4 linked regions of the Homo sapiens genome follow. The protein of the gene in region 2 interacts with the protein of the main gene of each other region in a pairwise test. Each region holds a gene or a part of one and is shown on either strand. Other genes may lie near its edges.

Evidence for each region.
Region 1: the proteins of ZFHX3 (region 2) and BHLHE40 interact in binary tests that used the Homo sapiens proteins (3 or more experiments, as listed by UniProt).
Region 3: the proteins of ZFHX3 (region 2) and TACC1 interact in binary tests that used the Homo sapiens proteins (3 or more experiments, as listed by UniProt).
Region 4: the proteins of ZFHX3 (region 2) and POU6F2 interact in binary tests that used the Homo sapiens proteins (3 or more experiments, as listed by UniProt).

Annotation. Positions count from the first base shown.
Region 1 is NC_000003.12:4,982,401-4,985,823, reverse strand, and holds the end of BHLHE40 (class E basic helix-loop-helix protein 40), read right to left. Parts: intron 2,989-3,423; coding exon 2,132-2,988; 3' UTR 501-2,131; downstream 1-500. UniProt on the Homo sapiens protein: Transcriptional repressor involved in the regulation of the circadian rhythm by negatively regulating the activity of the clock genes and clock-controlled genes.
Region 2 is NC_000016.10:73,045,103-73,052,375, forward strand, and holds the start of ZFHX3 (zinc finger homeobox protein 3), read right to left. Parts: upstream 3,027-7,273; 5' UTR 2,720-3,026; coding exon of another isoform or gene 2,650-2,719; exon of another isoform or gene 2,476-2,649; intron 1-2,475.
Region 3 is NC_000008.11:38,783,224-38,790,238, reverse strand, and holds the start of TACC1 (transforming acidic coiled-coil-containing protein 1), read right to left. Parts: upstream 3,004-7,015; 5' UTR 2,683-3,003; coding exon of another isoform or gene 2,657-2,682; coding exon 2,496-2,656; intron 2,134-2,495; exon of another isoform or gene 1,993-2,133; intron 1,536-1,992; coding exon 1,420-1,535; intron 1-1,419. UniProt on the Homo sapiens protein: Involved in transcription regulation induced by nuclear receptors, including in T3 thyroid hormone and all-trans retinoic acid pathways. Might promote the nuclear localization of the receptors.
Region 4 is NC_000007.14:38,974,044-38,980,937, reverse strand, and holds the start of POU6F2 (POU domain, class 6, transcription factor 2), read right to left. Parts: upstream 3,030-6,894; 5' UTR 2,985-3,029; coding exon 2,880-2,984; intron 1,044-2,879; exon of another isoform or gene 1-1,043. UniProt on the Homo sapiens protein: Probable transcription factor likely to be involved in early steps in the differentiation of amacrine and ganglion cells. Recognizes and binds to the DNA sequence 5'-ATGCAAAT-3'. Isoform 1 does not bind DNA.

The sequences.
Region 1 (3,423 bases), on a different chromosome or scaffold from region 2:
CACGACAGGGTCATTTCCCACCTTTCCCATGGAATTTTTTTTTTTTTTTTTTAAATAAGAGCACTTGTCGAAGGAACACCCAATATGCATTCACGCACAAACATACCGGAGAGGAAGTCCAGGAAGGATGTAGAAAATAATTATGGAATGTTGCCTCCAGCAGGAATAAGACAGGATATGGCAAATCCATTAGACCTTGCTAGATTTGAAAAAGCTAGACTGCTTTGGCAAAGAGGTGCTATCCTAGCATCAATTAGTATTGCATAATAATCCAGTAAATCTTTTCTCAATGTGCCTCTCCCTCCAGCAGGCTCCCCAGACACTGCTGCCCACGGTGTCATACCTTGGTTTTCTGTCAAGTTCCAAGGACCACGATGAAAGCAGGCAGGGGAAAATATGCTTTTTACTTAACTCTGGAAAGAGGTAGAGGATGATCATGAACCCCTGGCAAGGGTTAAACAAAAATTGAACCAATATTTACCTGCCAGGTTGACTAAGCTTATTCTGATTGAATACAAAGCACATGAAAAGCTGAATGAAATTACACTGAGATTAACTGGTTTGCTTCAGCCAAGAAAGAAGGACATGGGAGTCAGCCATATCACACCAAGTGAGCTATTTTAAAAAACTCAGGAGACCATCTTTCTCTTCCACAGGAAAAGAATTATTTTATTAAGTATTTTAAAACAACTACTTAACATTTACTCATAGATAAAAATATTTACAATTTTACACCTTCAGGAAGGCTCCAAAATATAAACACTGTACCTCTCCCTAGAGAAAAAAAAAATTATTCTTCTCTTCAAAAACAGGAATACATTCATTTTTTCTCACTGTGTGAATCAAGTAATTATACAAATAAACATCTGAAACATTTTCCTTTTTAATATATTTATATAATATATATTTATAACAGCTTTACAAATAAAGGCAACGACTTAATACCAAAATAAAAACAGGAAAAGAAAAAGTTAAAACACGATCAGCAATCAGGCATAGTGCATTTTGAAAAGCTGCTGCGGAGCTGGCTGGACACATCGGGAAAACAAGTACTCTGGACCAAAAATAAAACTTCTTTGAAGGAGACGGAATCCTTTTTAGCAATAAGGACACTCCATATGCCGTTGGGCAAGAGGAATTAGCCTACAGAAAGGATCTGGCGGTGCCAAGGCTTGGTTAGGCCTTTGAGAAGCTAAGCTTGGTTAAAAGGAGTTTTAGGATGGAATTGAAAACTGAGTCTAGTTCTGTTTGAAGGGGGCAGCTTTTTACTCAGCTTTGTGCACTTTGGGGTGCTCGCTCGGGGTGTCCGCATTTCTCAGACCTTGGTTTGGTTCCCTGCACAGTAAGTACTAATGGTTAGGCCTAGAAACAGGTGCCAGAAGCCCAGGGAACTCCTCCCTCCCTCCGGGGCAGCTCAGCTTGTACAAGGGGCCCATTTTCAGTTCCTTAGTAAGCTAATCACTACGAAAGCCTGAGTAGGGAACTACATTCTCTTTATTCTTCCGAGGCAGGGGTGGGGAGCAGACCTGCGGAAACCTCCCCAAACCACTACCGTGCTATGCCAGTGCCTGCTACCTCCCCATGTTAGCAGAAAGCTCGGTCTGACTGCTCTCTCTCCCCGACGTCTGGTGAGTCACGTCGACAATAAAGGCAAAAGGGTGGGGTCCTAACAGCTGGTTGGGAGCTGAGCCCTGGAAAGCCCTCTTTTGAAAGTACCTTCTGATCAAAGCCACAGACCCAGCTCCCAAACTGAAGAGTGACTCACAGACCAAGACTTTGAAGCTTTTGAAAATCCAGCTGATGTGTATCGAAGGGGGCTATTCTCTGGGTGGGGAAAAGCCCAGACGTCTGCTACAATCCCCCCCAAGTCTCCTGATGTCAAGCAATCCTTCGTGACTTCCCTATGCCAAAAGGAGCTTTAAAGTCCTATACCAACACGCAGGCACACATGTGCACGCACACGCACATACACACACACACACACACACACACACCCTGAATCTGCTCTCCATGCCTCAGATTATCTCAGTATACACAATGCAACAATCTTGCAGCATTCACAAAAACTTTTTTGTTGCTTTTTAGGAAGTAGCGAGGAAGGAAAGCAAAGCAGCAGGATCCCCTAGAGAGTTTAGTCTTTGGTTTCTAAGTTTAAAGGGGGGATTGGCTTCAGAGCTTGGAGCAAGACAGAAGAGTCGACGGACGGATGAGCTGGCAAGGGAGAAGGGAGTCTCTGGGGCATGAGCAAGGGAGCCGAGATCTTGTCTGGGTTCATGAAGCTAGAGAGGGCTGCGGCAGAGGCGTTGAGGCCTGGGTATAGCACTGGCACTGAGGTGGGATACCAGCACTTCTCCAGCATGGGCAGGTAGGCAGTCGCTGAAGGTGGGATCAGGTAGAAGGGCAGGCAGAAAGGAGGCTGGTGTGGGTGTGGGCCCAGGAACGGGGAGCTGATCAGGTCACTGCTAGTGAAATGGCCTTCATCATCCGAAAGCTGCATCCGGTTCTTTTTTGTGGGGGGTTCTTCGGACTCTTGCTTAATTGCGCCGATCCTTTCTCCCATCGTGAACCTGCGTCCGTGGTCACTTTTGAAGCACGGCTGCTCACTGCGCAAGTCGCCCTTCTCCGATTCTCCTCCATAGCCACTGTCTGTGTCCGTGTCGCTGCCGCTCTGCTCCCCACTCGAGTGAGCGAAAGTCCGCTGGATGACTGGCACGCAGTTTTTCCCAGGACCTTCCGAACCTTTGGCCGGAGAGCTGGGTTTTTCCTTGAAGTCCATCACTTTGGGAGCTGGGTCTGATGGCTTCCTGGAGGTACCACCCTGCAGCAGCTCCGAGACCACCCGGTGGAGGTGGGTGACAAGCTGCGAAGACTTCAGGTCCCGAGTGTTCTCGTGCTTGGCCAGATACTGAAGCACCTCCCGGGCACATGTCTGGAAACCTGAGCAGAACATCTCTTGACCTGTTTCGACATTTCTCCCTGACAGCTCACCTGGGGAAAGAAAAATCCGAAGGAAAACGTTTCAGAAGGCCTGTGGCGCACCTGGAAACTATACTCCAAAAAACCAGGTGCTTTAGTTTTTGTTAAAAAAAAAAATGCATTTACTGATTTGTGTTCCTAACTCCAAAAGTAGTATGCTCAGAGAAGAATTACACTGAAAAGTATAAATAATTAAAATAATCCATATACTAACACTCAGATAAAATATGATTTTTAATGGTTGCATAATATCCTATCATGGAAATGGACCATAATTAATATGAGATGAGCTGTTTCCCCTCTTTTGGATTGTATAGGTGGTTTGTGAGTTTTCCATGTAAGCGAGGCAGCAAAGAACATTCTGATGTATTTATAAACCTAAGAGTCAATGCATACAACATTGCACCGTGGCAAAATGGGCAGAGGCTGGATAGTTATAAAATGAGG
Region 2 (7,273 bases):
TCCAGATTCTTACTGATACTTTGTAGGTGGAAGAAAAAAAGCTCCTACCCCTGAAAGATACACCAAAAAGGAACAACTGCACACAGTGACAATAAGGACATGTTTCCTGGATGCTAGAACTAAGCCACATCACCACTAGCCCTAGAAATACTTTTCCAGCAGTCTGTAATCACAGATTTATTCTAATGAACTAACCACTTTTGGGTCACCAAAGATGAGCCAGGCCGGTCCTGGGAGTGTCTAGCAAGCATCATTTAAAGTCATAATGATGAAAACTAAATCTCGCTTATTTTAGCTCCTTGCCACTGGGCTGTCCAATTGGCACTGAGTTGACACAGCAGTTAAATTCAACCTCAAAGCAGCAAGAAGGCAGGCACTTCACTGTCCTGGTGGGAAGAGCCAGGCAGGGGCCTGTGGAGGGCACCGTTTTAGATGGGCCTTTCCAACCCTCCCTTAACATTCATTTGTGCAAACAAAAAATGGAAGAAAAGGAACCAAAATTAAGTTTCAGGTGGTTGGGGAAGCAGCATGGATTTACATTATTATTATTATTATTATTATTATTATTATTATTATTATTATTGAATAGTTAGCAAGTGTTTCTCAATAGTTCCCTGTTCATCAACACTGTTTTCAGGAGAAATGGAAAACAGTAGCTCTATTTCATAGAAAGTACAGCCATTTCAAAAAAAAAAAAAAAAGTGGGGGGGGGTTGTTGAGAGAGGGAAGTGACCCATGTCATAAAGACAGAAGGTCTCCAAGTCACTTAATTCCTTGTGATTCTGAAAGGGCTGTTTTTAAAGTCTAAAAGTGCTCGCTTCTGCATCTGCTCCATGTTGTTAAATAACACTTGTGTAATTAAATAAAAGAGCCAACTGTGACCCCAGCCCACTCTGAGAGGCACTTTACATGCTTTCTGAAAACTATGCTGGAAACACCATGAGGAGAACTCCTTAGTCCTGTAATTTAGCAAAGGGAGAGAGAAAAAGTTTCTTTTGGCCATCATAGCTACACACTCTCTGAAAGGGTGCCTGCAGGGTCTCTGCAAAACAGAATGAACACAAATACAGGCGTGCAAACATCCAGGTATGTACCTCTCTGTGAAGACCCCATTCTTGAAACCCTTCAATTATTTGGAACCGTGGTCTCCTGACTTCCCTCACACCTCACTTTTGCCTTCATTGTTTTTCATGTTTGAGTAGCAAGAGGGATTCAGAATCTCAGGCTGCCAGTGGCTGTTCTGATAACAAGGAGCAGACTCATGTTTCTTGCTACGGCCTTTCTTGATCAGGTTACCTTGGAAGGTGTATGTTTTCCTACCCAATGCAGTCCCCACCACAGCACTCTCGTGTCCTCCTCCAGCCCAGCCTCCTGGAACTCGTGATTTTCAGGGTTTCCCTTGAAACCTATCCAGAAACCACAGCCATTAACTGAACGTGAAGATTTGACACCTCCTGAATTCAGGAATGAGGGAACTCGAGGGGCCAACTCTACAAACTCGCACCTGCTGCTTGACGGCAAGGAAACAGAGTTTCCCCAGCTAGGGTGAGCTTTAAATTATACACTATTTATTTAGTGACTTGTCTCCAAGGATCTCAAAGCATAGAGAGAAATAAGATGATGTGTAACTTTCTCACAATCTACCTTCAAGGCTTTGCCCTGGTGCATTCTGACAAGCAGGACCCAGTATGAAGGAGAGGCCTTCCTTCTGTGCCCAGGCAGAGCCATCTGTTCTCTCTGGGGTTTTCTGTCAGTGGCTTTAGGGAGTCTTCAAGGACTGTTAAATGACACAGAGGGTGGGGGGAGGGATGACCCTCCTGGATTCACCTGCTCACGGCTTTCACTTAAGCCAGTTTAACACAGGAGGTACCACTGTGCCACGCAATTCCCTCTTAGCACACACCATGCGTGAGCTGCAGTCTTTGCCCTCCAGGCCTTTTCCTATCATAACACAGGTGTGTCCAAGGCAGAAAAGAACATTTTCCAGAAGGTTCGTTTCCCTCCAAGCCTACAATGCTTCTTTTTGTTGTTATTGTTTTTCTGCTACTGACCTAAACATAGGCATTCCTCCTCCTAACAGGATAAAAATCTTGACTCTCTCCTTTGCATCAGCTCCCCACCCCGCCCCTGCCCAAGGAAATAAATGCTCTGACTTTTCCAAGAGTGCGAAAAAACTAAAATTAGAGGGTGGACAAGATGATCTCCAAAGGTGCCCTCCAGCTCCAAAACTCTGATTCTCCCTTTAATTACTCCACAAGCGCATTCTTCACATTGTTTCGAACTGACCAGCGACTTCTCCAGGGCTGAAAAGGGTGCATTTTTAGGCGGAGGCACCCAAACTTCTAAATGACACCAGTACCACAAGTATTCAGAAGGCAGGAACTAATCCAAAAGCAGACTCAGGAAAGGAGGAGGGAGGGGAGGACAGAGGGAAGGGAAGGAAGGAGGAAGGAAGAGCTTTACTGTGTGCCCAGCAGAATTTAGGCGCTCTCACCCTAGGTAGGTGGCAACTGGAGTCTGGGAGTTCAAGTGCATCCAGCCTGCCCTTCCCCCACACGCCCCAAGAGAATGGGAAGTTCAGCCAAGACTCGCAGCACCTGCCCGCGGCTCCAGGCCGGCTGCGCGGACCCGGAGGGAGGCTGCACTCACCTGGCACACCAAGCCTCCGCGCACCTCCGGAGGGAGGCGGCACTTGCAGGTCCGGGGGCCGCGCCGCCATGCGCAACAACGGGAAATTCCAGTGGCACCCGAGCCCCGAGCTCACCCACCCCAGGCGGCATGCTCCCCACCTCCCGCTGGCCCCAGGACTCGGAGGTGGCTCTGGTCAGGAGCAGGGGGCCCGGAGACAGGGGAGGGGAGCTCATGGTGGCGGCAGGGCTGGCGGTCGGCCCGTCCCCGGAGGGAGGTCCCCGGGACGCGGCGGGGATTCACCCACGGGGCGCGGCGCTGGCGTCCGGGTCCCCGGCCTGCCCGCCGCCGCCGCCTCCTCCTCTGCCGCCGCCCGCCCGGAATCGCTTTATGTAAATGAAGCCCAACTCGCAGTTTGCAGCGCGCACCGCCCGGGGAAGGGGGGCGGGCGGGGCGGGGGGCCTTCGGGGATCCACATTACACAGCAACAAAGCGGAAGGTTAATTTGAAACTCACAGCCCCGCTGCCGCTCGGCTCCCCGGGCAAAGCCTGACATCTACAGTCGTGCCGGGCGCAGGCCGGGTTGCTCGGCGGCGACCGCGCCCGCCCGCCCGCAGGGACCCGGGGACGCACAGGGACGCGCGGGACCCGGGCGCTCAGCTGCGCTCGCTCCGCTTGGGGCGCGGGCCTTGGGGCAGGCCGGGGGTCCCGCGCACCCGCCTGGGGCCAGGAACCCTCGCCGCTCGGCCTGCGCCGCCCCGGGAACCGGCCCCGGCGGGAACAAAGCCCAGGCCCTCCCGGAGGCGCTGACCCCTCGCTCATCAAAGGTCAGGGGCCGGCCTAGAATCGGGCGAGAAGAAAGGGACGCGCCCTCGGCCACTAAAAGGAGCCTGAGGCCTCCGAACCGGAGCCATCGCTCCCTGGGCCCCGTCCACGTCACAGCCAGGCCACTCAAGCATGGGGACAGGAGCCAATGTGGACAGGAATTTATTGGAAACACACACCCATCCTATTAACTGCTTTACAGAGCACTTCTGTTTTTCAGTTGCAGAAACTTATAAAAACATCCCCCTGCTCTCCGTTGAGAGTTTAAGGATAGTTTTTGAGGCCAGAGAAAGAGAAAAGGAGAGATCACTAGAAAGATAGGAAGAAAAGAAGTGGGAAGAAAAGGAGATGCAGTCTACCATGTAAGCCTCCAGGCTCCTTAGCCTCACCTTATAAAGCCACATCACCGCAGAGATAGCAAAGATCGTGCCCTTTCCCAGGGAGTTCCTACCGCCAGGGTAAGATTTAAAGCGGCCACCCCAGTTGGTCAAAGTGATTGCTGGGCGCCTTTCTATCTCCCCAAGTTCACCTTTTCCAGTTGGTCAAAGCGATTGCTGGGCGCCTTCTATCTCCCCAAGTCCACCTTTTTCCATTCTCATCTGAAAGCCAGCCCCAAAGAAATCTCACCGGAAGTCCTCTGTCCTCCCTGTCAGAATCCCACCCTCAGTCTGAATTTACTCCCGATTCTCACAGCACAGAAAGGCACCTGCTTTTACCCTTTCTGAAAACCACCCACCCAGGCTGGCCTTACAGCCTGGAGAGTCTTTTCCTCGGGCACAATAATGAACCATGCAAGTGTTAGAAATATAATCAGCTCATGAGGCGAAGAGCAGTATGTATGGAATTGTATTAGCATGAGGCACACACTGACTCGGGAGAAAAAGGGATGCTTAGCTGGTGAAAACCATCACATCCCCGTATAGAAGGCTTTTTGCACAATGTAAGTTGGGTTCAGATTAATGTAAGTATCTAACCTGTTGGGTACAGACAGCCCCTTTCTACATTTTAGTCCAGAATAGATTCTGGGGAAATTTATTTATTTATTTATTTATTTCAGCTAAGGCCCTGGGAGAAAAGACTGCCTCCAGGGAATCATGTCCGATTAGGGACAAAGGAGGGCACAAGCCCAATTCAGTCACACGTGAGAGCACGGGGGCCGGGTGGGGGGAGTTAAGAGCCAACAGGGAAGGTGGAGGATGAGTTTGCAAACCAGACTATGGTCACTGCAGAGCTGCTTCCAGACCACCTGACTTCAGGCCCAAGAACAGGTGGTGTTTTCAAAACACACTGTTATTTATATTGGCCATATAAGTTGAGAACACCTTAAAGAAAACAATTAATAATTTAATTGAAAAAGTGACTATGAATAAGACATGAAGATGACGTATGCTAGCAGGACCGCAAGCAACGTGGCCCACAACGCAGAGATGCCTCTGGCAATCTCTCCGGAAAAACGAAGATTCCTTACCTGGGATAGGTAAGGCCTGCTGGATAAATTAAAGACAACAAGAAAATGTTGATACTCTCAGAAAATCTAATTTTGCTGCTTTATCTTCATTTTTATTAACAGGGGACAACCTCGTAATCTGGTGACATCATGATCCTGGTAGGCCCACAGACAAATACCTTCAATAAAATAAAAGCTAGAAAGCCCAAAGAACAAGCTATTAAAGTAACCTGGGAGGATGCAGCACTGCCTGGGCAGAAGGCCCGGACGGGATCTGCCCTAATACTGCCACTGTCCCAAGAGGCAGACCCTGCAACCTGCCTCCTGCACTTGAGAGGCCTGACAAGTAGAACTGAGAGTGACCCTGAGTTCCTTTTCTTTATCTGGCACCAGCTACACACATGATGAGGCCTAGTCAAGCCTGCCTTTGTTCCAGGCAAAAATTTAACAGGTAATCCACAGGCAGGTGATCTATGGCCTCTGTACATTATGGAAATGAGGGACTACACACAAGCTGGGTGTCACCTCTACTAAAACTCATTTTCCTTATTCATAAAAACAATACCTCTTCAGAGGGAATTGGCAACTTCTGCACTTACATATGAAATCAGGAGTTCCTCTGAAATACTCCTTGCAAATTCTATCCTCCAGCTCTGGAAGCCCTGGCTCTTCGGAGGGCAGCTGCCTGATGTTAAACCCATGGCCTACCCAGCAGTGACAGCCTGACATTCTCATCGCTCCATCCTGAACACTGCTGACAAATAAACCCACTCTCAGAAAAGGCAATTCTTCCCTCGCAGTTCTCCATACCCAGTCTCGTCTCATCTGGAAAGCGTAATTGGCAACAGCCGAAAGGATAAATATTTAAAAATAAATCAGGGAGCGCTAACCCCTTCCCTACTCCTCCCCTTACCCACTCTCCAAGCCAGAGGCCTGCCCCCTAACGCTGAGCTGGCTGGTAAATTACAATGATTCTACCGAGCCAAACCTGCTTGTCTCTCTCTTTCTCTACACATACACACTTACTAATGCTGTATCCTTCCACTTTTGCAAAGGTAAATATGATCTCTAAGATACAGTGGATGTCAGCATTCTGACTTCCAGCGTAACCTGGGCTCTCTTTTCACAGTACAGCGGGTTTAGACAGATTTGTGCACCCTTCCGGGTTCTTCTATTTTTATTAAATTATACGTATACATTGATTTTTAAAACTAGTGCTTAAATAACCCGGAGGCTTTAACAAAGAAAAATCCAGAAGAGGGCAAGAAACAAAAACAAACGTTCCTGAAATAAACAAGGAACCATTTGGAGCTGAATTGGCCTGAGTTCACCCCATGATTTTGAGGCAGTTATATTTAGGGGCCTGGTACCCGCTGGGTGGCCGAGCCCTCCTGGGTATGGAACAGAATGCAGAAGTTCCTCAGAACAGCTCACATTTGCCTTCATAACCATTGGAAGCTGGTGTGCCAAGGCCTGCACACAGATGTTTTGATTCACATTTTTCTGCTGAAGCCTCAAGGCCTCCATCCATCCCTACAGTGCTAATTCCATAGATTAATTTTTACCCCCAAATCGTAGGTGGAACATTATCTAATTTCCTTACCCACCCTCCCCAGCTCAGGTGCTAAATCTGTCAATGATATCCCACAACAAAGATACAAATGAGTAACCATTTTTTAAAAGCTGTGATTTCGGAGAGTTTTTCTAAATTAATTTTAAGTTACAAAGCCCCAAGTTTTAAGAAAGCCAAAATACAGAAGTTGCCTTAAAACAGCTTTACATGTTAGGTAAAGAGCTCTCTCTCTCTTTCTCGCTCCTTCTTTTTTAAACAAAAATATTATTTCTGAAAGGGCAAAGGGAATTTGCCATGCAAGACTTTTAAACACAGGGGGATTCTTACATTTGTGTTTCTAAACCTTGAAATTGAGAATTTTAATGAAAAGGCGGACAGATGCTTAAGGACAGCATCGCAATCTGGGTCCATACATTACAGGAGAGAGAGGCGCTTTGTTTGGGGCCAAGTAAAAAGAGGTGGGCTCCTATTTTGTTCATAGGCCATTCCCACCGTCTGACACATCCCTTTACAGTCGGTCTGATGCTAACCACTGAATTCTTGGAGGGGAAGCAGGTTGGAAGGAGAAGAAAGGAAAAGGGAAACAGAAGAGGAAAAGAAATGGGCGATGGGATACTGCCTGTTTATACAAATTGTAGATTTAAAAAAAAAAATCCCAACACGGTATCCATTCCATAGTATGTACCAAAAGCACTTTCACACGTGAGTTAAAACGATCCATTAAATGCTATATCGAAAGTACAACAACCAGGGTTGGAGTTTATTTTTTTTTTTTAATGAAGAATTCATTGAGGTTTGCA
Region 3 (7,015 bases), on a different chromosome or scaffold from region 2:
GCACGGTAAGACAGATACATAGGGAGAAGATGGCCATGTGTTGAGACAGAGACTGGAGTTCTGCTGCCACAAGCCAAAGAACACAAAGGATTGCAGACACCCAGCAGAGGCTAGAAGAGGCAAGGACAGACTTCCTGGAGCCTTCAGAAGAGCAAGGCCCTGCCAACACCTTGACTTGAGACTTCTGGTTCTGATTTCAATTATCCAGGACTGTGAGAGAATAATTTCTGTTATTGTAAGCCGCTAAGTTACTCTGTTATGGCAGCCCTTGGAAATGCATATGCCCTCCAGTGGCTTTCCACCTTACTGAAAACCAAATCCTCACTGCAGCAGCATCTGGACCTCCTCTGACCACGCTGACTTCAGCTCCTCCTGCTCTCTGAGTAGTCAGTCCACACTGACCTCCTGGCTGGTCCTCAAACTGTACCATGAACCCTCCACCTTACGGCCTCCCTGCAGCAGGCTGGTGCTGTCAGACCTTTGCAGATGCCACTCCTTCTGCTGGAAGGGTTCCCACCTCAGGAACCTCCAAGGCCTGCTCCCTCAATCTGCCTTCAGGTCTCTGTTCAAGTCACCTAATCATGAATGCCCCCACTAACTCCCCTTCAGCCTTCCCTATCCCCACTCCATATTCCCTATTCTCTTCCCCTGCTTTATTTTTCTCCACAGTGCTTCACACAAGCTGACATAGATATTTTGCTTAACCCTTCACAGGTTCTCCCTCCACAATGTTAGCTCGAGAGAGCAGGACTTCACTGCTGAATCACAGTGCACTCTATTTAGTAAATAAGCATATGAATTCTGTTGGGATAGGTGAAATTTTATTCTGAACTGGCTGTGTGACAAAAAAGGTTTCTACTAATTAAGTGAGACAACGGAAGCTCCTGCAGATGAAGGGCTGGGCTCTGAGGGGCTGGGAGGGAATCCATGTGCCAGGTTTTCCTAAGTAGACTGAAGGGCTCTCACCACATCCCTGCATGGAAGTGGGCGAGGTGAGTGATTCCGAAAAAGCCTCTTAAGAACCTCCCTATCAAAAATTAAGTCAAGTCTTACCTGTAATTTTTGTCTCCAGCCACACCCCAGTAGAAAGCAACTTAGCCTGAGGAATTTGTGAAGTCAAATATAAACATGATCTTCCTACTTCATTACTATACATATTTTTTTAGGGGCTGAGGAGAAAGGCCTAGTAGGAATGTTTGATAATGATAATCTTATACTGCAAATGCACAAACTCTACTCAGAGGAGAAAGCCTCGATCACCACACCCCTAAAAATACATAAGCCAGGAGGTTTCAAACAGCTCTTTCTTAGTCAAACTCTCTTAAATGGTCCTAAATTTACACTTTTTTCCTTCCTTCATTGATATTTTTCAAAACTTTTGAAACAAAACAGGCAGGAAAAATGCAAGTTTTTCTTTACCTTGGCTTTTGGCCCCAGGTCCTGCCAATCCGAGTGATGGATCACAGGACTCCTTGAAAGGTGATCGGATCGGGGTTTCAGCTTCAGGAGTCTCAAAATTACCTTCAGAATCCGAGCTGCCAAGGAGGAAAAATGAGGAATTACCACTTTCAACGGTATTTCCGACACCCTTTGAAATCTACATATTCACAGAGGCTAAAAGTCCAGCACTTTTGTCTAACTTCACAACCAACCGGTCCTCAGCAGGGTCTGACCTGCGGGAGGCAACTGCGGTCTCTGAGCAGTGCCCTCCTTGGGTTTCTCAGGCTGGCATCCTGTCTCTCTGAAAGCTCCTCCATTCCCTGGAGCTTTTCTCCAGCACCATTTATTTTCGAGGTCATCCTTCCCTCAGACACCTGAAAAATGCGCTTTTCCAACAGACTCCTTTTGTCACAAGAGCCCTTTCCCAGAGGCTTTAACAATTAATACTGGTCCCACCCCCGAGTTAGGCCGATGCTAGGCATTCCTCTTTGCTCGGTAGGCCTCTACCTGCTGGAACTCCCTGGGCCCGAGGCTAAGAATGGTGTCACCTGCCTTCCGCAATCACGCGGATGACAGCCCGGCAGAGACCACCATTTCCCAGCAGCTGCCAGGGGCCTGTCATCACGCGACCTTCTTCACCGCGGCTGCGTTTTGGGTACACGGTAGGGCCCCGGGAAGGGCCGGGGAGCGACTTCTTCCCCACGGGGGGGCCCTAAGTTGCACTGGGTTAGATCAGTGACGTTGCTCCAGTGTGGAGGGGCGGGGGCTGGGGGTCGAAGCTTAGAGAAAGTGACCGAGGCCAGCGGGGATGCGGAGAGACTGCAGATTCTGGGTTGGGTGCGGAACTCTCCTAGCGAAACGGGGGCCAGAAACCCCACGGGAGGACAGAAGATCCTGAACTTTCGGACGCACACGGGGACCCGGCTCCGGGCAGGGACGCGGCACGGCCGTGAGGACGGTTTCGCGGGTGGCGACCACACACACGCACACAGAGGGAGTCGCAGATGGATGGAGGCAAGCGCGTCTGCATCTCAGCGGGGACGCCGTGTACTTGCCTGAAACTCAAGGATTTGGTCTCGGCTTGCGAATCCTCCTCCTCGGGGTCGCCCTCGGGCCCGCCAGCCTCGTCCTCGCCGGCGGCCCCGCCGCGTACCGCAGACCACGTCCATTTCGCCCACTGCACGGGGGACAGGATCTGCCACGGGCTGAACGCCATGAGCGCGGCTCCTCCGGCTCCAGCTCCTAGGGGCAGGGGAATGGGTGGGGAGAGCCTTTTTCCCTTTCAAAATGGAGGGAACCGGTGACAGGCGCCAGCAAGCGTTTCCAGCAGAGGCGCGGATGTGGTTAAACGAGTGCCGTCGGGGGCCCTGGTGGAGCGCTTCCTCCCGCCGGCAGCCGGCGCTGCGTCCTCCTCGGCCTCCTCCCCTCACGGTGCGGCCGCAGCGGGCCCCGCGCCGGGCTCCACTAGCCGGGAAGACGCCCGTCCTGTGGCCTCCTCAGGCCCCCGGCCCGCGGCGCCCGGCTGCTAGACCTCTGCTGCTCCCGCTCCCGGCTCGCGGACTCCCGCCTCCCGGCCGGCGGGGCGCGCATCAGCTGCCGCCGGAGCCGCGCCCCAGAAGCCGCCCCCTCGGACCGTACTACTCGCGCGCGCGCGCGGGGGCGGCGGCGGCGCCGGGGCTTTGAAGACGGCCGCGCGCCCGCCGGATCCCCCTACCGCGGCGTCACGCTGGTCGCGGCCCGACTGAGGGCCGGGGCTTGCCGGCTGCGCGGGGAGATTCGGTCATACCCCACAGGTCCGCCGGCGTCCGGGGCAGAGGAGGACCGTTTTCTGAGCCGGGGCACGCTGTCCTCTTCCTCTTTCCTTATTCCTTTTTAAAATTTTTTTAAACATTTTCATCTTGCCACTGTGACTTCACGGCGATGGTGATATTGGACTGCACACAAGCCCCTTGTTACCAAAAAAAAAAAAATACAAACCTTCGCGGCCGCTGTGGACTGTTGTTTTCCCCTCCCTAACCCTGGCAGCGTGGGGGATTTCAGCCTGTTCATCTCCATCCCTGGCATTCCCGGGATTTGAAAATCCCTTGGCAAAGCCACAAGAGTGACCGAGGACTGGAATTTAAGATGCCCTCCCCCTCCCCAAACCGCACTCGGGGAGGCTTCCCAAGTGCCCAGGTCTTGTCTTAGGTAAAGGGTACTAAATTCCCTGTGAGATTACAGCCTGATGGGTTTCCCATTCTCCATATTTATTTATTTAAAATACAGACAGGCGTCTCGATATGTTGCCCAGGCTGGTCTTGAACTCTTGGCCACAAGCGATCCTCCCGCCTCTGCCTCCCAAAATGCTAGGATTCCAGGCCTGACACCGCGCCTGACCCCATTCTCCTTTTTGAGATTTTCTTTTCGTAACTTCTAAGTCTTTGATTTCTGACTTATTTCGCTGCTTCAGTAACAAGCCAAGAGGCCTGGCGACATCTTTAGGTTTGAAGGCAATGGGAAATAGCTGATGTTCTCCATTTCCCATGGAGGGATTTCATGTAGGGATTGTTCCTCTCAAAACCACCAAAGCACCTTCTTCCAAGTGAATCGATTGCCTCAAACACCAGGCTTAATGATCTCCTTGCCTGGATAAGGTGTTCCAGGTGGTACTGTAATTTCCGAGTTGTGGTGCATCCATGAGGTGCCTGCAGGTTCCCACAGAGACAGCAGCTCCAAAATGTGCACGTTGAAACTTGCAAGAGACTAACCGTTGCCTCTGAAAGCAGTTGGCATGTATATTCATCGTGACTGTTTTACACATTTGATAACAAAAACAGGAGCAAAATACAAGATAAGGCTTGGCAGGGTAGTTTTACCAAAACCGAAGGGCAGGAGTTAACCTGAAGTCTAGAGAAAAGAAAGGGGTGGGGTGTCAGGATGCTTTCGAATTCATCCTGGCTTCTTCCCAGAAATAAATTGTCATGAGTGTTCTAGCGACTATAAAGAAGTGAACTAGGCAGGAGGTCCATGTGAAATATATCACACCACTTATCCAACTGTTGTAGTTTTAGGTTTATGCTTACCCAGTAAAACTTCAGGTTCTACAGTCCCCCAGGCTCCTGGATTTGACACAGGGTTCTGTTTCTGGGAAATAATATTACCCCAGCAAATCAGTAACTAGCATACACTAGGACCTGTTCTTCCTCCTGAATAGTTCTCTTATCTTTTCATTCCTTTGCATCCCTGTGGTGACTGACATAGTTCCCGCACTCCCCATCTTTCATGATCTACTGTAAATAACTCCCACCTGGTTTTACCTCTGAAGGTTTTCTTGCCTGAGGTCACCCCTGCCTGGCTGATCAGTGACTCGTGCTCTAATCTTTCGGTTCCCATTCCCCTCTATGCCCATCCTTTTGTATTCCTAGCCACAGTGAGTAGAGAACTCGTTGTCAATCTTTAATATGCCCAAGAATCATCCGCCAGCCTTCTTAAAAAAATCCAAATTGCCAGCAGAGTCTGGAAATCTGTGTGTTCACTAAGTGTCCTGGGGAACTGTTATCACAGGGTAAATTTGGGAAACAGTGCCTAGCTTGAACCAACTGCTTACTGCTTCGGGAACAGTCTCCCTTTGCCTGCAGAGGGAGCTTTGCGAATTCCTGGAACACACCTCCTCCCCCACCCCAGCCCACCCCAAGTTCCCAGGCTTCAGCTGCTCGAACGTCCTTCAGCACTTAGCTCAAGTGTCTACAGGGGGAAGCAGGCTCATTGTCCTTCCTTTCTATCATTTCTATACCCCGAACATCCATAAAGAACACTTCCTGTGGCCTTAGATCTGAAAGTGAAAGACAGCATTCTTAATAGTTACACAGGGACTATAGGCATAAACCAGGACTGTCTCCAGAAGACCAGGATGTAAGGCCATTCTACACTTAGCACACCATATATAACATATTTATTTACATATCTGTCCCACAAGCTTCTAAAGGGACTTTACCCCCCTTTGGGACTTCCTCCAGAAATTAGGACAGAACCACACACTCAGTAGGTGTTCAATATATATGTAAGAAAAAACAAACATTCTAGTTTACAAATAGTCCTTGTGAGTTTGGCTAAGGTGACATAAATTCCTAAAGCCTGACTCCCCCTGGGGAAATCTAGTTTCTGGGCCAGAAAATAACAGAACCCAGGACCAAGTGATGGCCCCAGTAAGATTAAGCCTCACCTATGCAGCAATTTACTTTTTTTTTTTTTTGAGATGGAGTCTCACTCTGTCACCCAGGCTGGAGCACGGTGGTGCAGTCTCAGCTGACTGCAACCTCCGCCTCCTGGGTTCAAGCGATTCTCCCTGCCTCAGCCTCCCAAGTAGCTGGGATTACAGGTTCCTGCCACCATGCCCAGCTAATTTTTTTATTTTTTAGTAGAGACGGGGTTTCATCATGTTGGCCAGGCTGGTCTTGAACTCCTGACCTCAGGTGATCCACCCACTTCCAAAGTTCTGGGATTATAGGTGTGAGCCACCGCACCCGGCCTGCAGCAACTTCTTGAGACTGGACTAGCAAATAAATGCCTAAGGTTTCTGAAAATCACTCCTCTGCAAGTTCTTGAACTTAGTGTAAGCAGTAATGAATATGAGTCCATTAGCTGGACCACTCCTCTCAGTCTGCTGCTCCTAGTCCTGGCTTCGTTCTTACCTGGTACAGGTTGCAAAGTCACAACTAGGAACACTCTAGCCCTGTCAGTGAAGACGTGCCATTGCCAACAGGAGGCTGTGGCCACCCTATCTGCTTTTCTGCCCTACCTCAGTCTAACCAGGCAAGGGCATGATGATGTCTAATCAAGACAACATTGCCAATAACAGCATCTGACCGCATTCAAATATGTTAACATGACAGTCTTAACCTTGCAAGATCAGATATTTACCTAATTATCCTTTACCTGTAGACTACAAACATCTATAGAATTACAATCTTCCCTCCACTACCCAAACACCGAAATCAGGACTGTGTACAATGCATTTATACAGAAAATTATAAAGAGAAGCTCCTTTCTAATTTTTTAAAAGAGAGGTGTCAGGGTATGTTCATAGCTAATACTCTTTCAGGCTGGGTGCGGTGGCTCATGCCTGCAATCCCACACTTTGGGAGGCCAAGGCAGGCAGATCACTTAAGGTCAGGAGTATGAGACCAGCCTGGCCAACATGGTGAAACTCCATCTCTACTAAGAATATAAAAATAGCCAGGTGTGGTGGCAGGCGCCTGTAATTCCAGCTACTCGGGAGGCTGAGGCAGGAGAATCACTTGAACCGGGGAGGCAGAGATTGCGGTGAGCCGAGATCATGCCACTGTACTTCAGCCTGGGCAACAGAGTGAGACTCCATCTCAAAAAAAAAAAAAAGAAAATACTCTTTCAGAGTTCCAGGAAGATTAACAAAGATCCAAACTGCATTTATTAAAGACTTGGCTGAGCCCCCCACCTGGGGTCTGCTGAAAGACCCTTGCCCAGACTTTGCTCTGGTGAACAACTCTTGTCATATCCACCCATTGATCTGTTTTCTTCTGTATCACAGAAGAAAAGTTTGCTTTCCCCAGGAAGTATA
Region 4 (6,894 bases), on a different chromosome or scaffold from region 2:
TTCTACTCTGTGAAGCCAGCGCTGTGTCCTGAGCTGGATCATGGCCAGAAACAGAAAAGTCTACTCTTCCCTACAGTGGAAGCAACTGTGGATATTTCATCCTAGGAGTGAATGAAAAAACCTAAAGCTCATACTTCATGGGAATCTTTCAATATTCTGACTGAAAACTGGTTATTTGCTCCTCCAACCCAAAGCCATCTAGGAACAGCACTCAGAACAGGAAAAAAAAAAGACAAAAATAATAATTATTCCAAAACGTATTTGAGCAGAAACAAACACAAACATTTGCATTATTAAATGGGCTTGTTCACACCTGCTGAGTAGATATAAGACGATATTTAAGACAAGAGCTAAAAAATAAACCATCCCTTTCTGGTTTTGAGTGACAGCAGAGCAATAAAAATTATTTTCACATTCTTTTCCCTATTGTTAGAAGTAATCATTTGAGTAAATACACTTATCTGTGCTGTAACTATTGAAATGAATCCACTTCAAATATGTATACCACCTTTCTTTTTTATATTTCTAGATATGGTTTCAATATAGACTTTCTGACTTTTATGGTATACATATAGGACAATATTCTATTCTTCTTTCCTTTTAAATACTTACTGTTTCAATTTCAAATAAAAAATCAGCATTCTAGTTTGTACATTTTAGCACAGAAATGTTTACAACCTTCAGCACAATTGCTTTTGTAATTTACTGACTTGGCATTTTGAGGCGTTTTTAACAAATTATGAGAAATAACACCTTCAGAAAGCATGTGACTACTTTGATGCAACTATTTACAATGTATTCATAAGAAGTCATTAACCTGTAGAGTTCTTAGACATGTGGAACCTTTAACAATTATACTAAAGAGTACATACAAAATACAGAGCTATGTAATAATAACTAATTTTAAATCCTGACAAATTAGAAGTTAAGCCTACTATCTGTAAAAATATGTCCTGATTCATTTTTTTAAGTATATACCTGAGCCTTTAAAAAGTATATGCCTTTACAATTGATTTCCAATAAACAATACTGAATAACAAACTACAAGTGACTTTCCTGATTTTTTCACCAGAAATATATAGAAAAAGGAAATCCTATTCTTATTAGAGATTGAAGTACAGTAATTCTGCACGGTATTAAGAACCATAACTATGCCATACAGAAGACAGGACCTGCAACCTAAGAAAAGTTTTATTAAACAGGACAAGACAGTGATCAGGGGCTCAAGTTTTATTTCAATATGCAAAAGTCATCTATTGTAACAGATATTTATTTCATTCCCTACACCACAATTATTTTAGCTATATTTGATATATTTGCTCGTCAGTGAGTACTTACATTGAAACAGGTATTAAGAGTATATAAAATCAGTTTATATATTTTCTCCTGCCTAGAGACTTCACTTTATATATGCTTATAGAACAAAAATTAACTTGAAAGTTTTAAAAAATATTTCTCTGTCGAAGCAAATATCTACTTCTTTTAAAATAGTGTGAGCCTGTGAAAACATGGTATTATGTATTTGACATTTTCCATCTAAAAATACATTATGAAGCAAGCATGCTGGTATTAATAAACCATGTGCTTTCAGAACCCTGAAGTGCTTTTCTATAATTTTGTTGAAAACAGAATAAGATGATATATTTTCCACCATGCTATTAACATAAAGCAAACAAATTTTATGTCATTGCCTTGCCAGCTTGTCTTGATTGGAAAGTGTACAAAAAAAAAAACTTTTAGGAGTTTATAAATATTCGTGACCATAGTCTGGTTTATGAGTTAACAATCCATAAGTAAACATAGATAACTTAGAAAAATTTAGTCAAAAATACATTACAAAAAAGAAAAGAAACCATGTATATTTCCTTTTTCCTTACCCCACCCCCATCATAGTCAGAAAAATCACCCTCCCTTTGCAGGAGGGTACTATCCTTCCTTCCACCACTTTAGTTATCTGAAGGCAAATGAAAATACAATGATCCTTTTCGTTTTCTGATTTAGCTTACAACGCAAACATTTTAACACAAACATAAACTACTGACTTCACGGAAAGCACCAAACAGAAAGAGCAAGATTCACTGACCCATTTGGAAGACAAAGACGACAGAGCGGGAAAGCTCTAAAAATCAGCTTGTGAGGCCTCTGAGAGATATTCTTCTGGCATTTCATCACAGCAGCCCCAGACCAGCTCACCTCCCTAGATACAAGGAGGAGGCACTAAATGGAGCTGTTTATTAAAGCTGCTGTGCTGGATTGCATTAGGAAGCGCGAGCAGACCACCTGGACCTTTCAAGATTGTGACAGTGTTTAATTTGCAGCCTGCCCTTCTGCAGCAGCCAAGACTACTACTACATTTACCGGGCTCAATCACACATTATCTGGGTTAGAAGTCAAGGCACATGTATTTATATATTTATATTTCCCATATGGAGAAAGGGAGAGAGGGAGAGAAAGAGAGAAGGAGAGAGCACAGTCAAAATAAAAATATTGAACAGCATTAGAAAAATATTAACTACTACCTAGGAAACCACACTTGATTCTCTTCTCGCACTTTCTTTCAGAGATCAAAATCCAAAAAGAAAGCAAATTTCTAAAATAGATTTTTAAGAAACATTCAGACCAAATTATAAATTAGATTTATTCTCCAGTGTTTTTGTTGTTGTTTTAGTTTTTGTTTAAAAGGATCGCATTGAAGTTTTAAGCTGAGGTTTCCCTGGTCAGATTTAATGGGTGCCTTTTGCCTTTCGCACTTTCAGCACTACACTGGCAGGTAGCTGAAGATACAGATAGAAAGATGGTACTGTAAATATGAATTATGTGAATCATATGGTGAGACCCTTGTGGAAAAAAGGGGAGTTGAGAAATGGCTGACTCCATACCTGACCAATTACAGCTTGCATGGTCCCCGTGTCCTGCTGCGCTGAGAGATAGCAATCCATCATATGTTGTCTTTGAAAAGGAGAATGGGGGTTTCTGGCATGCATCTGTCAATCAACTTCTGCACTCACAACCATCACCAAAAGCAAGGGGAAAAAAAGTCAAGCTGCTCCACCAAATAGAATGAAACCGTCATGTGACCTCCGGCAGACACGCACACACACATTCACTACCTCCACAGAGCGTAAGAATTTTCTGTAGATATGAAATGACATTGACAAATATCCAATACCAAGTAAATAAAGTGAGACAAACAGCTATTCACCAAAGACAAAAACATGGGCTGTAATCTTCCGCTAAAGGTTTAACAAACCTATGAGGATTGTTTTTAATGCTCTAGAAATCTATGTTTAAAACAAAACAAAAACAAAATGAACTATCTCAAATGAGTGTCCATTAAGACTTTGATTTTTGTGCTATTATATACATTTTTAAAATTACAGTTCATTGCTCTACTTTTCTTAAGGGGTCCCTAATGATTTTATTTTTAAAATCTCTAAATGACCTTTTGATAATATGCAGTTATCTCTGTTGTTTTATATAAGGACACCTTTTCAGAGAAGCTTGAAATGTGAACTGCTACATAACAAACACCCTGATATTTGTGAATTGGAAGTGGACATAGAAAATAATCCGTGTAAATGATGATGACCACTGTAATATAAAATATTCAAAGTGTGTAAATAGCAGTCACTAAACTTTTTATCTTCTGAAAGGTAAGGGATGATTTACTTGCAGCTCATCTAAACTGATGTAATGTGTTTTTAATGTGATGACAAGTATTTTAACTTTCTAAATTTAATTTTAACTATCTGATTCCTCACAATCTAGGGACAGATTGCTAATGCATTATGGGTCAGTTATTGTTAAGGGTGAAAAGAATATAACTTACCAACTTTTTAACCTTCTTAGGCTAAAGATCGGAACCTGACTTTCAAGACAATCCTACAGGTATTGTAAAGTTGCTCTCCAAAAACCCAAACCCATAAACACCATCCGTTAACTTGGTGGCTTTGTGGCAGTGAAGAACATTCGCATTTGCCTACTTTTTTTCTTTTTTTTTTTCATTTGCCTACTTTTTAACTGAAGTTCATTAGTTAGTATACTCTCCCTAACTTTTCAAAACAAATTTATGGGAAAACCTTGTGTTAATATTAAAATGGAGATTTTTTTCAAGGCTCTAAACTGATGACAGGTCGGGTAGCAATGAGAAATATTTAATACAGAATATATACTATTATGTATATTATTGCATAATACCCACGGCTTGAAAATTAATCAAAAGGAACTTCAAGTAAGAAAAAAAAAACAAAACAATTTTCAACATTGTTAAAGAAATCTTTAGGAGCAAAGAATGAAGGACCGAAGCGCGCGCGCACACACACACAAACACACACACACAGACACAGACACACACACAGTTAAATCAGCATCCCCAAATAAAATGAGACCGTGCACCAACTGGGTAGCCCTCCTGGGAGCTGAGGGCTAACTGAGGAAAGGCCCTTCTCAACATCATTAAATGTCCCGTCTGCGCTGAAGTCCTACCCGGGGGTTTCTGCAGTTATCCCAGATCAGAACCTCAGGCTTCCCATCATCTCCTTTGGCCAGGGAAGGGGAGGCCAGGGAAGCCGAGCCTGGAGCATCGACAAGGACTGAGCCAAACTTGCCCGAAACCTGCGGGCTCACAGAGGGCAGGGGGCGCGACTGCTCCTGGCATCGCCTTCTTGGGACCCCGCCTGGGCGGACACTAGACAGAAAGCCAGGTGACGGGACCAGTGGGAAGTTGCGGAGGAGGGGCGAGCTGCAGTCCCAGGCCGCAGCAGCCGCTGAGCAGCCGCCCCCGCTTTCTAATTCTTGGGGGGTTTGCAGCCAAGCCTGGAGCGCACCCCGGCGGCACCGCCCTCCTGGGCGCCCGGGAGCCCCGCGCCCTCCGCCTGCGTCCTCGGACTTAGGCAGCAGAGCCGGTGCGCGGATGGCGTGAGCCCCGGGGTGGTTTTGGCGTCCTGCGTCCTCTGTAGTGCAGCCTGGGTTCCCCACGCGCTGCCACCCGATCGGAGGCTCAACTTCCCCTGGGATCTAAGCTTCTTAAGCGCCTTCCTATGGGGCTGGGGGCTGGGGGTGTGGGTGGAGGTGGGTGGGAGAGGCTGGCCAAGCTGCAGTATGAGGCCGAAGACCTCCTTTGAAGCTCTGTCCCACAAATTATGGTGGTTCCGATTGGCGTAGGGACAACACTCTTTGCTTATATTCCAGTTGTTTACATGACCATCTGGCCTGTATGAATTATAATTATTACTAGCCAGCGTTGATGGGAGGCTGAGCCAGGCACTGTGTCAGACACTTCACAGTATGTTACATGTGAAATAACAACTCAGTGAGGCAGAGATGGTTATTCCCATTTTGCAGATTAGGCTCAAAAAAAAAAAAAAGGTAACAACTCATGATTAATAGGAATATGATTTGAACCTGCTCTGAATCCAAAACTGGAGCCCCTTCATATGAAACCACAGAGTCAAGTAACATTCACAATAGTGACTATCACACATGAAGCACCCACTCTTCCGCACATATTTATGGAACCTGTACTAGGTGCCAAGTACTGTATTGGTGTTAGCGCAAAACAGCACAGATTGCTTTAGAAACATAATAAAAATAAACCAAATGGTTAAAAGATTTATCTGGGGGAATTGTTTGATGCTAGCTGGTGGAACATGCTGACACTTTAGGCACCATAATGCATGGGCTCGGGTTGGGATGGACTCCCTCCCTGACCTCTCAGAGAGTGTGGCCTTGAGAAAGTGCCATTTCTCTGAGTCATGGATTTTGTGTCTTATACCAGTGATAATAATCCCTCAAGGGTAGTGTAAGGATTTGGGGAGATAATGTTTTGTGAAAGCTTATTGAGCTATACTGTGTAAGTGCCCAGCAAGTGTTAGTTATTTTCCCATATGGGAGGTCTATGGAGGGCAGGAAAGATTAATTCTCCTGGGGAAGGGAGGAAGCCTCTATGCAGATGGTGAAAAGATTTGGGTTGTGATATAAACAGAGGGCAGCTCCTGTTCAGGGCAAGGGAAACAGCATGAGCAAACCATCTGTTTCTCCATCAATGTGGGTGGCAGACACTTCTAAGGTTTGATTAATGGAAAACAAATGGGAGAGAATGGGGGTATGCCAACTAATATTGATTCCCATTCCCACAGTAGCATTTTAGGAAAGGAGACTCCTTGAGTGAAATATTCACCATTACCATCATCTCTCTGTTTTCTTACCTCCCATCAAATTTCCATAATATTGTGCATTTTCTGGCCCTCTAAAGCCCACTCCTTGATCGCGAAGCAGCTAGATATGTCCTTTTCCAAGATACTCTTGTAGGCAAGGCAGCAGTGATGGCAAAAGGTCACCGTAAGTCAAACCAAAAGAGGTCCCACCATTGCCCAAAATCCCAGTCCCTAGCTTCTCAGGATAGCGATGTCCTTGATTTCTTAAACCACAGAGGACACTGATAGATAAATGGAGGACTGGGAATCAAGATAAAGTGCAGAAGTTGGTCATCTCCATCTTCCTTTGTTTTGATGAATGTTTTGCAATGTTTAGGGATGAGAAGAGCTAACATACCTGGAGGCTTCTTTAATCCAAGGACCAAAAGCAAAAAAAAAAAAAAAGTGAACAGATGGTTCAAAAAGTCATCAAGACACTCTTACTAGACTTAGTATATTTCTACTTATGCTATCATAACATGTAGATGTAATACAAATCGATATGACATGCCTTTCTCTCTGTTGAGACCTGTTCTTTTTGTTGTAGTTGTTTGCTTTTTTGTTTACGGTTTTACTCTTTTTTTTTTTTCATTTCTCTGTTACTTCTTGCTTTTGCGTACATACCTTTCCTGGTTTTTAAAAGACTAACTTACCATTCCTCTGACTCGTTTTATTTTTCATTTTAAATCTCCCACCCCTA